3 linked regions of the Homo sapiens genome follow. The protein of the gene in region 2 interacts with the protein of the main gene of each other region in a pairwise test. Each region holds a gene or a part of one and is shown on either strand. Other genes may lie near its edges. The genes, in order: ZNF497, GRN and ZNF296.

Evidence for each region.
Region 1: the proteins of GRN (region 2) and ZNF497 interact in binary tests that used the Homo sapiens proteins (3 or more experiments, as listed by UniProt).
Region 3: the proteins of GRN (region 2) and ZNF296 interact in binary tests that used the Homo sapiens proteins (3 or more experiments, as listed by UniProt).

What each region holds. Positions count from the first base shown.
Region 1 is NC_000019.10:58,360,621-58,364,364, reverse strand, and holds the start of ZNF497 (zinc finger protein 497), read left to right. Parts: upstream 1-1,613; 5' UTR 1,614-1,688; exon of another isoform or gene 1,689-1,739; intron 1,740-3,744. UniProt on the Homo sapiens protein: May be involved in transcriptional regulation.
Region 2 is NC_000017.11:44,348,158-44,351,901, forward strand, and holds part of GRN (progranulin precursor), read left to right. Parts: intron 1-1,000; 5' UTR 1,001-1,007; coding exon 1,008-1,145; intron 1,146-1,268; coding exon 1,269-1,394; intron 1,395-1,509; coding exon 1,510-1,594; intron 1,595-2,070; coding exon 2,071-2,183; intron 2,184-2,284; coding exon 2,285-2,420; intron 2,421-2,533; coding exon 2,534-2,643; intron 2,644-2,879; coding exon 2,880-3,006; intron 3,007-3,205; coding exon 3,206-3,303; intron 3,304-3,392; coding exon 3,393-3,638; intron 3,639-3,744. UniProt on the Homo sapiens protein: Secreted protein that acts as a key regulator of lysosomal function and as a growth factor involved in inflammation, wound healing and cell proliferation. Regulates protein trafficking to lysosomes, and also the activity of lysosomal enzymes.
Region 3 is NC_000019.10:45,074,422-45,078,165, forward strand, and holds the start of ZNF296 (zinc finger protein 296), read right to left. Parts: upstream 2,058-3,744; 5' UTR 1,953-2,057; coding exon 1,655-1,952; intron 1,442-1,654; coding exon 1,292-1,441; exon of another isoform or gene 1,206-1,291; intron 1-1,205. UniProt on the Homo sapiens protein: May be a transcriptional corepressor with KLF4.

The sequences.
Region 1 (3,744 bases), on a different chromosome or scaffold from region 2:
CCACAGGAAACTAACACACCATCCCTCAGTTCTGCTTTTCTGTATGGACTCCATTCTCTTAACAGATTCATCCTTCAGCGGGGCAAGAAGGCTGCAGCTGCCCCAGCTGACAGATGCTCACAGCCTCAGGTTCAAAGCAGATAGAGGCCCTAACAGTTCAGAGAGAAGTCCCACGATGCTCACAGGTCCAAAGTGACCACTGCCAGGGCCAGAGGGATGGACTGCCCTGTGCTGTGGACCTGGGCCATGTACCCACACCTGCCCAAACCACCTGGGCTGAGGTGAGAGCTCCCTAGTACAAATTGGGAAAAATTGGTACAAAAAGAGCTCGTGGAGGCCGGGTGCAGTGGCTCGGGTCTGTAATCCTAGCACTTTGGGAGGCCAAGGTGGGAGGATCACTTGAGCCCAGAAGTTCAAGACCAGCCTGGGCCATATAGCGAGACCCCGTCTCTAGCTATTCATTTATTTTAGCTTACAGCATCTGGTCTATGTTGTTTTTTGAGACGGAGTCTTGCTCTGTCACCCAGGCTGGAGTGTGCAGTGGCACGACCTCAGCTCACTGTAACTTCTGCCTCCCCGGTTCAAGCGATTCTCCTGCCTCAGCCTCCCGAGTAGCTGGGATTATAGGCACACGCCAACAAGCCTAATTTTTGTATTTTCAGTAGAGACGGGGTTTCACCATGTTGGTCAGGCTGGTCTCGAACTCCTGACCTCGTGATCTGCCCGCCTCGGCCTCCCAAAGTTCTGGGATTACAGGCGTGAGCCACCGCGCCCGGTTTATTTATTTATTTTAGCCAACAGCACTCGGTGTTCCCAGACGGTCTCCCAAGTACTAACCAGGCCCGACCCTGCTTAGCTTCTGAGATCCCGACTCAATTTTTTTTTTTTTTTTTTGAGACGGAGTCTCGTTCTGTCGCCCCAGGCTGGAGTGCAGTGTCGCGATCTCGGCTCACTGCAAGCTCCGCCTCCCAGGTTCAAGCGATTCTCCTGCCTCAGCCTCCCGAGTAGCTGGGACTACAGGCGCCCGCCACCACGCCCGGCTAATTTTTTGTATTTTTAGTAGAGACGGGGTTTCTCCGTGTTAGCCAGGATGGTCTCGATCTCCTGACCTCGTGATCCGCCCGCCTCGACCTCCCAAAGTGCTGGGATTACAGGCGTGAGTCACCGCGCCCGGCCCCCGACTCTATTTTAAAAACCGCGTGGATTCCAGCTTGGTGGGTGTTCCACAGCGCGTGGGTGTGAGACGCAGCTCAGTGGCGTCAACTCAGCAAGGTTCCAGGGTGGTAAAGACGGCCTGGGGCCGGAGGAGGACCGCCAGGGAGAAGCTACGTTGGCCCGACTTGCGTCCGCGACCCGGGCAGCCCCAGGCGCCTGTGTAGCTGTTGGGTGTGTGCCGCAGAGGCTGGCCGGGTGCAGGAAGGGGCGGAGCGCATCCATGGCAACGCAGGACGCCCGAGTAGCTTGGCTGTGGCGCCGTCCCCATGGGAACCAGAAGGCGCGCGCCCGCAGCCGCGGCATAGTTACGCAGGCGCAGTGGGGAGAAACGCGACGCCTTGGGCCGCTCTGCCGAATGCAACCGCGCCCCCAGGAGACCCGGTGCCCGCCCTCCTACCATTCCACGCGGCTCGAGCCCGCGTGCGGGCCTCTTTCAGGCCGCTCCTAGTGGACGCAGAGGCGGGCCGAGGACGGTGAGTGACGCCGACGGACACCCTCGGCCAGGCACAGATCCGCCCTCCGGCTCCAACCACTCCCGCCGCGCGGGGCAGGACGGGCCTCGGCCCTGAGCTGGGCCCTCTGGGACCACCGAGAGATAGGCCTCCGCGCCGTCCAGAGCGGCCCGGAAGTGGCCCTGCACGGGCCAGAGGCGACCGTGGTCGGGACGGAAATGGCTCCCGTTTGCTGTTCTCTCGGTGAACGCGAGCCTTATGGCGATCAGTTCTGTGGCATCGTTCCTCCTGCTCGTTTATTCTTTCACTCATTCACTCATGCCCTGCCGCGCCATCATTTCTTCCCACATTCATTTATTCGTTCATCAGTCCCCAGCCCCGGGTAGTTTCGGAGCTCACCAGGCTGGGCTCGCCTCCCAGCCTCCGGAGCTGCCCGCACAGGCCTCGCGCCACCTGGCCGCAGCTTCCTCCCCTTTATCCACTCCGTATTTGTTTGTCCAGCCTAGGCCTTGGGGGTTGTGGGGGAGACACAAGTACCCGTGACTGGTCGGACAAGTGCCCGTTGTTGGGGGCGTGGGCGCTGGGACTGACGCGGGAGGTGGCTCTGATCATGTCGAGGTGAGGAGGAGGCGTTGAGGCTCAGAAAGGGCACGCAGCGTGGACGTGAGGACGTCGGGGAGGCTGGAGCAGTGAGGCCGACAGGAAGGACCTTACGGGGCTCACATGCTATCCCACGACGAGGACGGACTCAGGACGGCAGCCCTGATAGATGCGGCTGGGGGCTGGCGGGTCGGGGTCGCACACCACAGGATGGAGGGGCAGCGGTGCCTGGCTCCGCCTTAAGAAACATGGGCCCTTGGGGGACCCGGATTTCTGATACTTCAATACACAAATATGGATTTTTATTGAAATCAGATGTCGTTTTTTTAAAATTTAACTTTTGATTTGAGGTAATTATAAATTCACATGCAGTAACAAGTAATGCATACCCTATGTACGCTTTACCCAATTCCCCTAAAGGTGGCATCTTGAAAAACTAGAGGCCAGGTGCGGTGGCTCATGTCTGTAATCCCAGCACTTTGGGAGGCCAAGGCGGGTGGATCCCTTGAGCTCAGGAGTTAAAGACCAGCCTGAGCAACATGGTGAAACCCCATCTGTACTGAAAACACAAAAATTAGGCGGGTGTGGAGGCTGGTGCCTGTAATCCCAGCTACTCGGGAGTCTCAGGCAGGAGAATCGCTTGTACCCAGGAGGCGGAGGTCGCGGTGAGCCCACATCACGCCACTGCACTCCAACCTGGGCAACAGAGCGAGACTCTGTCTCAAAAAAAGAGAAGAGAAAGAAAAACTAGAGTACAATATCACAACTGAGATGCAGAATATTTCCATCACGAAGGATCCCCGTGTTGCCCTTACAGAGCCGCATACCCTTCCCTCCTACCTCTGCTCCCCGTTAACCTCTTTTTGTCAACTAGTAATCTGTTCTCATTTCTACCATTTTGTCATTTTACGAATGTTGCATAGGCTGGGCGAGGTGTCTCGCGCCTGTAATACTAGCACTTTGGGAGGCCGAGGCGGGTGGACCATCTGAGGTCAAGAGTTCAGGACCGGCCCACCGGCCGGGTGCCGTGGCTCACGCCTGTAATCCCAGCACTTTGGGAGGCTGAGGCGGGCGGATCACGAGGTCAGGAGATCGAGACCATCCTGGCTAACACGGTGAAACCCCGGCTCTACCAAAAATATAAAAAAATTAGCCGGGCATGGTGGCAGGCGCCTGTAGTCCCAGCTACTTGGGAGGCTGAGGCAGGAGAATGGTATGAACCCGGGAGGCAGAGCTTGCAGTGAGCCAGGATAGCGCCACTGGACTCCAGCCTGGGCGACAGAGCAAGACTCTTCTCAAAAAAAAAAAAAAAAAAAAAAAAAAAAAAAAAGAGTTCGGGACCAGCCTGGCCAACATGGTGAAACCCCATCTCTACTAAAAAATAAAATAAAATAAAATAAAATAAGCCAGGCCTGATGGCAGGCATCTGTAATCCCAGCTACTGGGGAGGCTGAGGCAGGAGAATCGCTTGAATCCT
Region 2 (3,744 bases):
CTGGCTCCCAAGAGGCTCAACAGACATTACTGTTTTTGCTTCTTCATTATGAGTTACCTCTCTGGCCACCCCACTGAACTAGCTGGGCTAGCTGAGCCTGGGAGAAGAGTTGTTTAGGAAGTGAGAGGCTGCTCTCCACAGAGACTCAAGGCTCAGTTCCTCCTGGTGACTCAGATGGGCAGCCCAGTGGGCACACGTGGTCTCTCTCCACATGTGGCTGAGTTTCACTTCCAGAATAGATGGAGAGGCAAGGGCAGGGTTTAGCATGCTTGAGGAATCTCAGAGGGCCCTGGTGGTGTGGGGGACCCTCAGAACACAGGTGTCTCAAGGGCTGACCCAGCTTCTGTGTCCTTTTCTCTGGGTGAGGAGGGGACATTCATGGGCAGATGGTGACCTCTGGGGAAGGCAGCCCAGACTCCACTGGCCACCATATTTCCTTTTTCACAACTTTCTCACCCCTGTGGTTTCCCATGTCATCATGTGGCCGCTTCCCGCAAGGCCTTAGCGGGGTGCAGGTATGAACATAGTGTCAGGCAAGGAGGCATCTGGAGGGGAACCCTGGCTTTTCCTGGGGGGACTCCCTCCCTGCACCCTAGCCCTGTCCTCTCCCATGGCTACTGATGCCTTCCCCTCACCCCAGAGGTGGCCCACATCTGCACAGATCAGACCCACAAAAATCACGTCTTCCTGACTCTCATAAGCCTGCCCAGTGAGGCCCAGGCATTAGGCCATGTGCTGGGGACTCAGACCCACACATATACGCATGTCAGCATTCATGCTTACAGGTCCGCACATGCTGGGGCAAGTGTCACACACGGGGCGCTGTAGGAAGCTGACTCTCAGCCCCTGCAGATTTCTGCCTGCCTGGACAGGGAGGTGTTGAGAAGGCTCAGGCAGTCCTGGGCCAGGACCTTGGCCTGGGGCTAGGGTACTGAGTGACCCTAGAATCAAGGGTGGCGTGGGCTTAAGCAGTTGCCAGACGTTCCTTGGTACTTTGCAGGCAGACCATGTGGACCCTGGTGAGCTGGGTGGCCTTAACAGCAGGGCTGGTGGCTGGAACGCGGTGCCCAGATGGTCAGTTCTGCCCTGTGGCCTGCTGCCTGGACCCCGGAGGAGCCAGCTACAGCTGCTGCCGTCCCCTTCTGGTGAGTGCCCCTCAGCCTAGGCAAGAGCTGGCAGCCTGGGTTTTCCCAAAGGGTCATCTTGGATTGGCCAGAGGAGGACGCCAGGCACAAGTCTGTGGTTTATCATTTTCCCTGTCTTTCTAGGACAAATGGCCCACAACACTGAGCAGGCATCTGGGTGGCCCCTGCCAGGTTGATGCCCACTGCTCTGCCGGCCACTCCTGCATCTTTACCGTCTCAGGGACTTCCAGTTGCTGCCCCTTCCCAGAGGTGAGCGTGCCATCAGCCCAGTGGAGGGGCTTAGGTCTGCATTTATGCTTTTCCTGCACTCTACCACCTGCAGATAAAAGGGCCCTGCCAATGCAGGTTTCTCTGTGTTCCACAGGCCGTGGCATGCGGGGATGGCCATCACTGCTGCCCACGGGGCTTCCACTGCAGTGCAGACGGGCGATCCTGCTTCCAAAGATCAGGTGCAGCTGGGGTGTGGGTGCAGGGCAGGCAGACGGGCAGCATGTGGAGTCTGGAACCCAGGAGCCCAGCTGGCGGGGGCAGCCCTGATTCCTGCCCTTGTGCCCTCATTCATGTGGCATCTGTACTAAGCAACAGCCCTGCTGTGGACAGAGGGGCAGCACTGGGGATAGGAGGGTGCGGGAGAAAGTGCAAGACTCCAGGTCCAGGCGTTGTGGGGGTGGGGAGAGGTCGAGCTGGGCCGGTCTAATACCAACCCATGGTCAGTGGGTGCCCCTTCCCCATGCCATCTTGCTGAGGGAGGGACTGGATTGTGAGGAGGGTGAGTTAGGCCTGCCTAGGAGATCACTGAGCCTTAGTGTCACCCTCAAACCCCAGTAGCTGGGCTTGCAGGCCCTGGTGCCACCAGCTCCTTGTGTGATGGGGGAGTCACCTTCCCTGAGTGGGCTGGTAGTATCCTGGGTCATCTTGTCCACAGGTAACAACTCCGTGGGTGCCATCCAGTGCCCTGATAGTCAGTTCGAATGCCCGGACTTCTCCACGTGCTGTGTTATGGTCGATGGCTCCTGGGGGTGCTGCCCCATGCCCCAGGTACAAATCTGGGGGAGATGGGGGTATGTGGAGGGAAGTGGGGGCAGAGTTGGGGGCCAGGGGCAGGGGGTGAAGACGGAGTCAGGACCATTTTTTCTCAGGCTTCCTGCTGTGAAGACAGGGTGCACTGCTGTCCGCACGGTGCCTTCTGCGACCTGGTTCACACCCGCTGCATCACACCCACGGGCACCCACCCCCTGGCAAAGAAGCTCCCTGCCCAGAGGACTAACAGGGCAGGTGAGGAGGTGGGAGAGCATCAGGCCAGGGGCTGGGGCGGGGCCTCATTGACTCCAAGTGTAGGAAAAAGTTTCCTCCATCCTGGCTGCCCCTCACGTTTGCTCCTCTTCCAGTGGCCTTGTCCAGCTCGGTCATGTGTCCGGACGCACGGTCCCGGTGCCCTGATGGTTCTACCTGCTGTGAGCTGCCCAGTGGGAAGTATGGCTGCTGCCCAATGCCCAACGTGAGTGAGGGGCTGGAGCCAGCTTGGCTGTGTGCCCCCAGCCACCTGGCCCTGACACGCACCTTACAGGGGCTCTGTGGCATGGGGCTGGCTGGCTGCTTGCTGGGAGCCTGGCTGATGCAGGGTTCATGCTACCCCCTAGTGGGGGATTGGGGCAGTGCCAGCCATCAGCCTGGCTGCTCCCTGTGTGCTACTGAGCCTGGAAGTGACAAAGACCCACCCCTGTCCCCACTCAGGCCACCTGCTGCTCCGATCACCTGCACTGCTGCCCCCAAGACACTGTGTGTGACCTGATCCAGAGTAAGTGCCTCTCCAAGGAGAACGCTACCACGGACCTCCTCACTAAGCTGCCTGCGCACACAGGTACCAGAGGCAGGGTGCAGATACAGGGGTGGGGCCCCCTTTCCTCCCTTTTAGGCCTGGCCTTAGGATCACTGCAAGGTGGTGTAAGCGGTACCCTCCATCTTCAACACCTGGTTCCAGCTGTGGAGCCGGCAAAGGGTTGATACCCCTGAGGGTCCCCAGTGCCACTTCTGACCTGTCCTCTCTGCTTCCCTCACAGTGGGGGATGTGAAATGTGACATGGAGGTGAGCTGCCCAGATGGCTATACCTGCTGCCGTCTACAGTCGGGGGCCTGGGGCTGCTGCCCTTTTACCCAGGTACCCAGGGGTGGCGGGTGGGTGGGCTGAGCACAGTGTGGCAGGCAGCCGGGCCCCAGTGCCCACCTGCCCTTCTTCATCTGCCCTAGGCTGTGTGCTGTGAGGACCACATACACTGCTGTCCCGCGGGGTTTACGTGTGACACGCAGAAGGGTACCTGTGAACAGGGGCCCCACCAGGTGCCCTGGATGGAGAAGGCCCCAGCTCACCTCAGCCTGCCAGACCCACAAGCCTTGAAGAGAGATGTCCCCTGTGATAATGTCAGCAGCTGTCCCTCCTCCGATACCTGCTGCCAACTCACGTCTGGGGAGTGGGGCTGCTGTCCAATCCCAGAGGTATATGGGAGGGGACAGCATCTTGGCCTGGGCAGGTGGGTGGCCAAGCTCCTATTGCTTTCTGCCCTCCGCATAGCCCATAGGTGATACCCAGCTCTGACAGATT
Region 3 (3,744 bases), on a different chromosome or scaffold from region 2:
CTGGGTCCCCCACCCTCTGCATGGATCTCAAATTGAGCCCCCAAACCTGAATTTGGATTTCTATCTGGACCTTCGGGGTACTCTCAGTGGACACTTCCTAGGTGAACTAGCCTTTCCATTTTTCAAATTCTAGAGTCTTGGATGGGACAACCTTTGTGATACAACCAGTCCTGGGTCAAGAGCACAGGCCTGCATTCAAATTCAGACTTCTCTGCTCCCTAATTGTGTGACCTTGGGCAAGACATAGTCCTCTGTGTGCCTCAGTTGCTAGAATTCAGGGACCCTAGAGATCCCCTCCCTTTCAAGGGTGGTTGTGACCTCGCTTGGGGAATGGTTGAGAGCTTTGGTCCACATAAGCGCTCAAACAGCAGAGCCTGTGAAACCAAGGTGCCCATGATTCTCCAAGCCCTGTAGTGTTTTGTTCCAGCGATTCCATCACAGCCCCTCGCTCGCTCCTCCAGGCCACTCTCCATGCTCCAGCTCTAAAGCTGATTCAATCAGTCACAAGCCCCTCCTCTTTCCCACCACCAGACCCTCCCTGGCCCAACCCTAAATAATTCCACTTCTCAAAAGTCTCAGAAGGGCAAGGGCCAGGGGGCTGGAAACTAGGTTTGGATTAAGCCCTGCAGCCAACACTGACCAAAAGCTCACCGAGGGTCAAGCCCCATGTGAAGGCTTTTAATTCCCTCCCAAGAGAAGGAACCCGGGTGTCCAGCACCCGGGAGCTCGCTCAAACCAGGGGATTCCCAGCACGCGGGGCTGGGAGATTCCATCACCGAGGGAAGCCAGAAGCCCCTTCCTTGGCTCTGAACACTCAGCTGTACTAGCACCTCAATCAGAATTGACAGAGAGAGACAGGAGGGGGTGGCAACCTCCCCATTCCAGCTGGCCTCCACTCCCCCTCCCCCCGGCCGCTGCCCTCCCTAGAGGTCCCCTCCTACTGCCACCCTGGTCCAGCCACCTGGCCAGTTATTTCTGGCCAAGGGGAAGGAGAAGTGAAACCAGGTTGGGGTGTGTGTTGGGGGGGGCAAAATCCCGGGCTAGTCTTCTGGGGCTGGCCACACCCTGTAGGCGGCCCTCCTTCCCTGCCCAGTCCCCCCCCGCCCCCCCTCCACCGCCACCACTGGTCCCTGCCCTAGGACGGGCAGGCCCTGGCCACGCCTAGGCTGCACCCGATGGGGAGCGAGAAAGGGGAAGTAGTGCTCAGTGCCCTGCCGTCCAGCCCAGCCCCTTTCCAGCAGGAAGCCCAGCCCTCGAACTTGAGAGGGGGACTGCACCCGGCTTTACTCACCTGAGCCCTGGCCGCGGCTGGGGCCTCTGAAGAGCTGACAGCCCAGCTTCTTGTGGTCCATGAAGGCAGTGATGGCCTCCAACGGGAAGGTCTGCAGGCAGCGGCCGCAGGTCAACAGATCTGGGTGTTTGTCGGTCCAGGGCTGGCGGTCTGCAGGGAGGAAGCGGGTGGTGAGCGTGGGGTGGGGCCAGGATGGGGGCTGAGGGTGCTGAAGGAGAGGGGAAACCGAAGGTCAGAAGGGGGCCTGAGGGGCAGGACGGGGCGAAGGAGATAAGGCAGGGCGAGGGGCCCATGCCCAAAGGGAAGGGTCCCACCCGAGGGTCAAAGGTAAGGGAGGCTGGGCCCAGGGCCCGGGGTGCTCACCGGGATAGTTCGGGGTCAACGGCGTCCACAGGGTCCACGGGTTCCGCGGGCCGAGGGCGAGGAGGGCGGCCCCGGCGGGCATGGGGCCAGGGGAGTGGTGGGGTTCGCCGCCGAACCGCCCCGCCGAGGACACCTCCTTCGGGGAGAAGGGCCCCAGCCTTGGGGCCTGTTGGGGCTGCGCGTCTGGCTCGGGCTTGAGTTCGATGACGAGGTCCTGCATTTCCATCTCGTCGTCTGGGTTGGCGGCGGGCGCGGGCTCTACTCGGCGGGGCGCGCTGCCGGCCTTGCGGCGGGACATGAGTCGCGGGCCGGGCGAGCGAGCGGGCGGGCAGGCAGGCAGGCGGGCGGGCGGAGGACGCACGAGCGGAGGACGCGCGGACCGTGCGCGCTCAGGTGAGTGACTGCGGCGACCCGCCGCGAACTCTTACACGTGCTGGCCGGGCCCGTGGCTCCGCCTACCAGGGCGGGGCTCATGGGAGGGGACCGAGCCGCCCTGCTGGGGCCCTGACGGCGGCCTAACTCAATCTAGGCAGTGTCCCGTGCGTTTGGCTTAGTGACCAAATTTAATCACACCGAGTTCCCACAAGGCATTGAAACAGCTATCCCTGATCCCGTTTTAGGGCGGGTGAAACTGAGACACGGCATGCCCACACGCACCCCCAAGCGAGAAAAATAGTCGGTCACGTTTCTTATTAGGTGCCTGATAGTAATCTGGGCTATTTCATTAAATGCATTACAATAAAAATTCATTTTGCAAGCATTCACTGAGTGCCTCCTGTGCGCCAGGCTCTGTTTGAAGCCCTGAGAATACAGGAGGGAATAAACAGAAGATAATCTTTGTTTGCACGGAGTTCAGACGGTGGGGGAAGACACTATAAACATAATTACGTAAAATATAGATGGCCCTTCATGATGACCAGTGCCATGGAGCAAAAGAAAGCTGGAAAGGCGGAGAGGGTTACTGGGGTTGAGGGATTCAATTTTCTCCCCTATGATGGGAAAGGGCATGGTGGAGCTGAGGCTGGAGGGAAGGAAGCCCAGCCAGTGGGCCTGGGCATTGAGGAATTACAAGGAAAGGGAGAGGCAATACGGGTTGGGGATTGAGTTCAGTGAAAATATGGGGGCAGATCCAAGCAATCTTTTGATCGCTTTAAGGTCTTTTGGTTTTCCTGAGACCGGAGCCTTAGGAGGGTTTTGAGCAGAGGAGGACTGTAATCATACACATCGACTCTGTTCCTAGACCAGAAGTCGCCATTAAAACCAAATAGCCAAGCAGCTCACCTGCCTCCACTCCGCCTCCTTGAACTTCCCTCCCCTAAGCAGTTCTGTCTGCTCACTGTTTGAAGTGGCATCGACACCCTGCCCCACCCTCAATCCCTGATGAGTATTCTTTTCTTCCTGGCACCGACTGCACGACAGTATAGAACGGCTTGTGGACTGTCCTCTCCCCCACCCAATGCAAGCCCCCTGAGGTCAGGGCAAGAACCTGTCCTCCCCCAGCTGTCCTCAGCCCAGATGCTGATTTCAGATGCTGATCTCTTGGAGTTCTGCACATTGTTATTCAGGTCTGGGTTCCATTGTCCTCCTGAGAGCAGAGGGCCCTGACCAACAGTATCTAAAGTAGCCCCACCCTGCTGAAGGCCTTGCAAATTACACTCCATGACCTCCATCTGTCCCCAGTTCCCTCTTGGATCTCACTTTCTCCATCTGTCAAAGGAGGTAGGGCAGGTTGGAACTAGAGGGTTATCTGAGGTGGTTTCTTCTTCACTGCCGCCTCCTCTGATCACCCTTTTTTTTTTTGTAATTTTTAATTTTTCAAAAAAAATTATTTTTAAATAGAGACAGGGACTCGCTTTGTTGCCCTGGTTGGTCTGAAACTCTTGGCTTGAAGCGCTCCTCCTGCTTCAGCATCCCAAAGTGCTGAGATTACAGGTGTGAGACACTGCACTCAGCCTCAGACCACCCAATTTTAAGTTCCATGGCAACCCAGCCACCCACTATCCCATTGCCCTTATTTTACTCTTTTTTTTTTTTTTTTTTTTTGAGATGGAGTTTCACTCTTGTTGCCCAGGCTGGAGTGCAGTGGCACG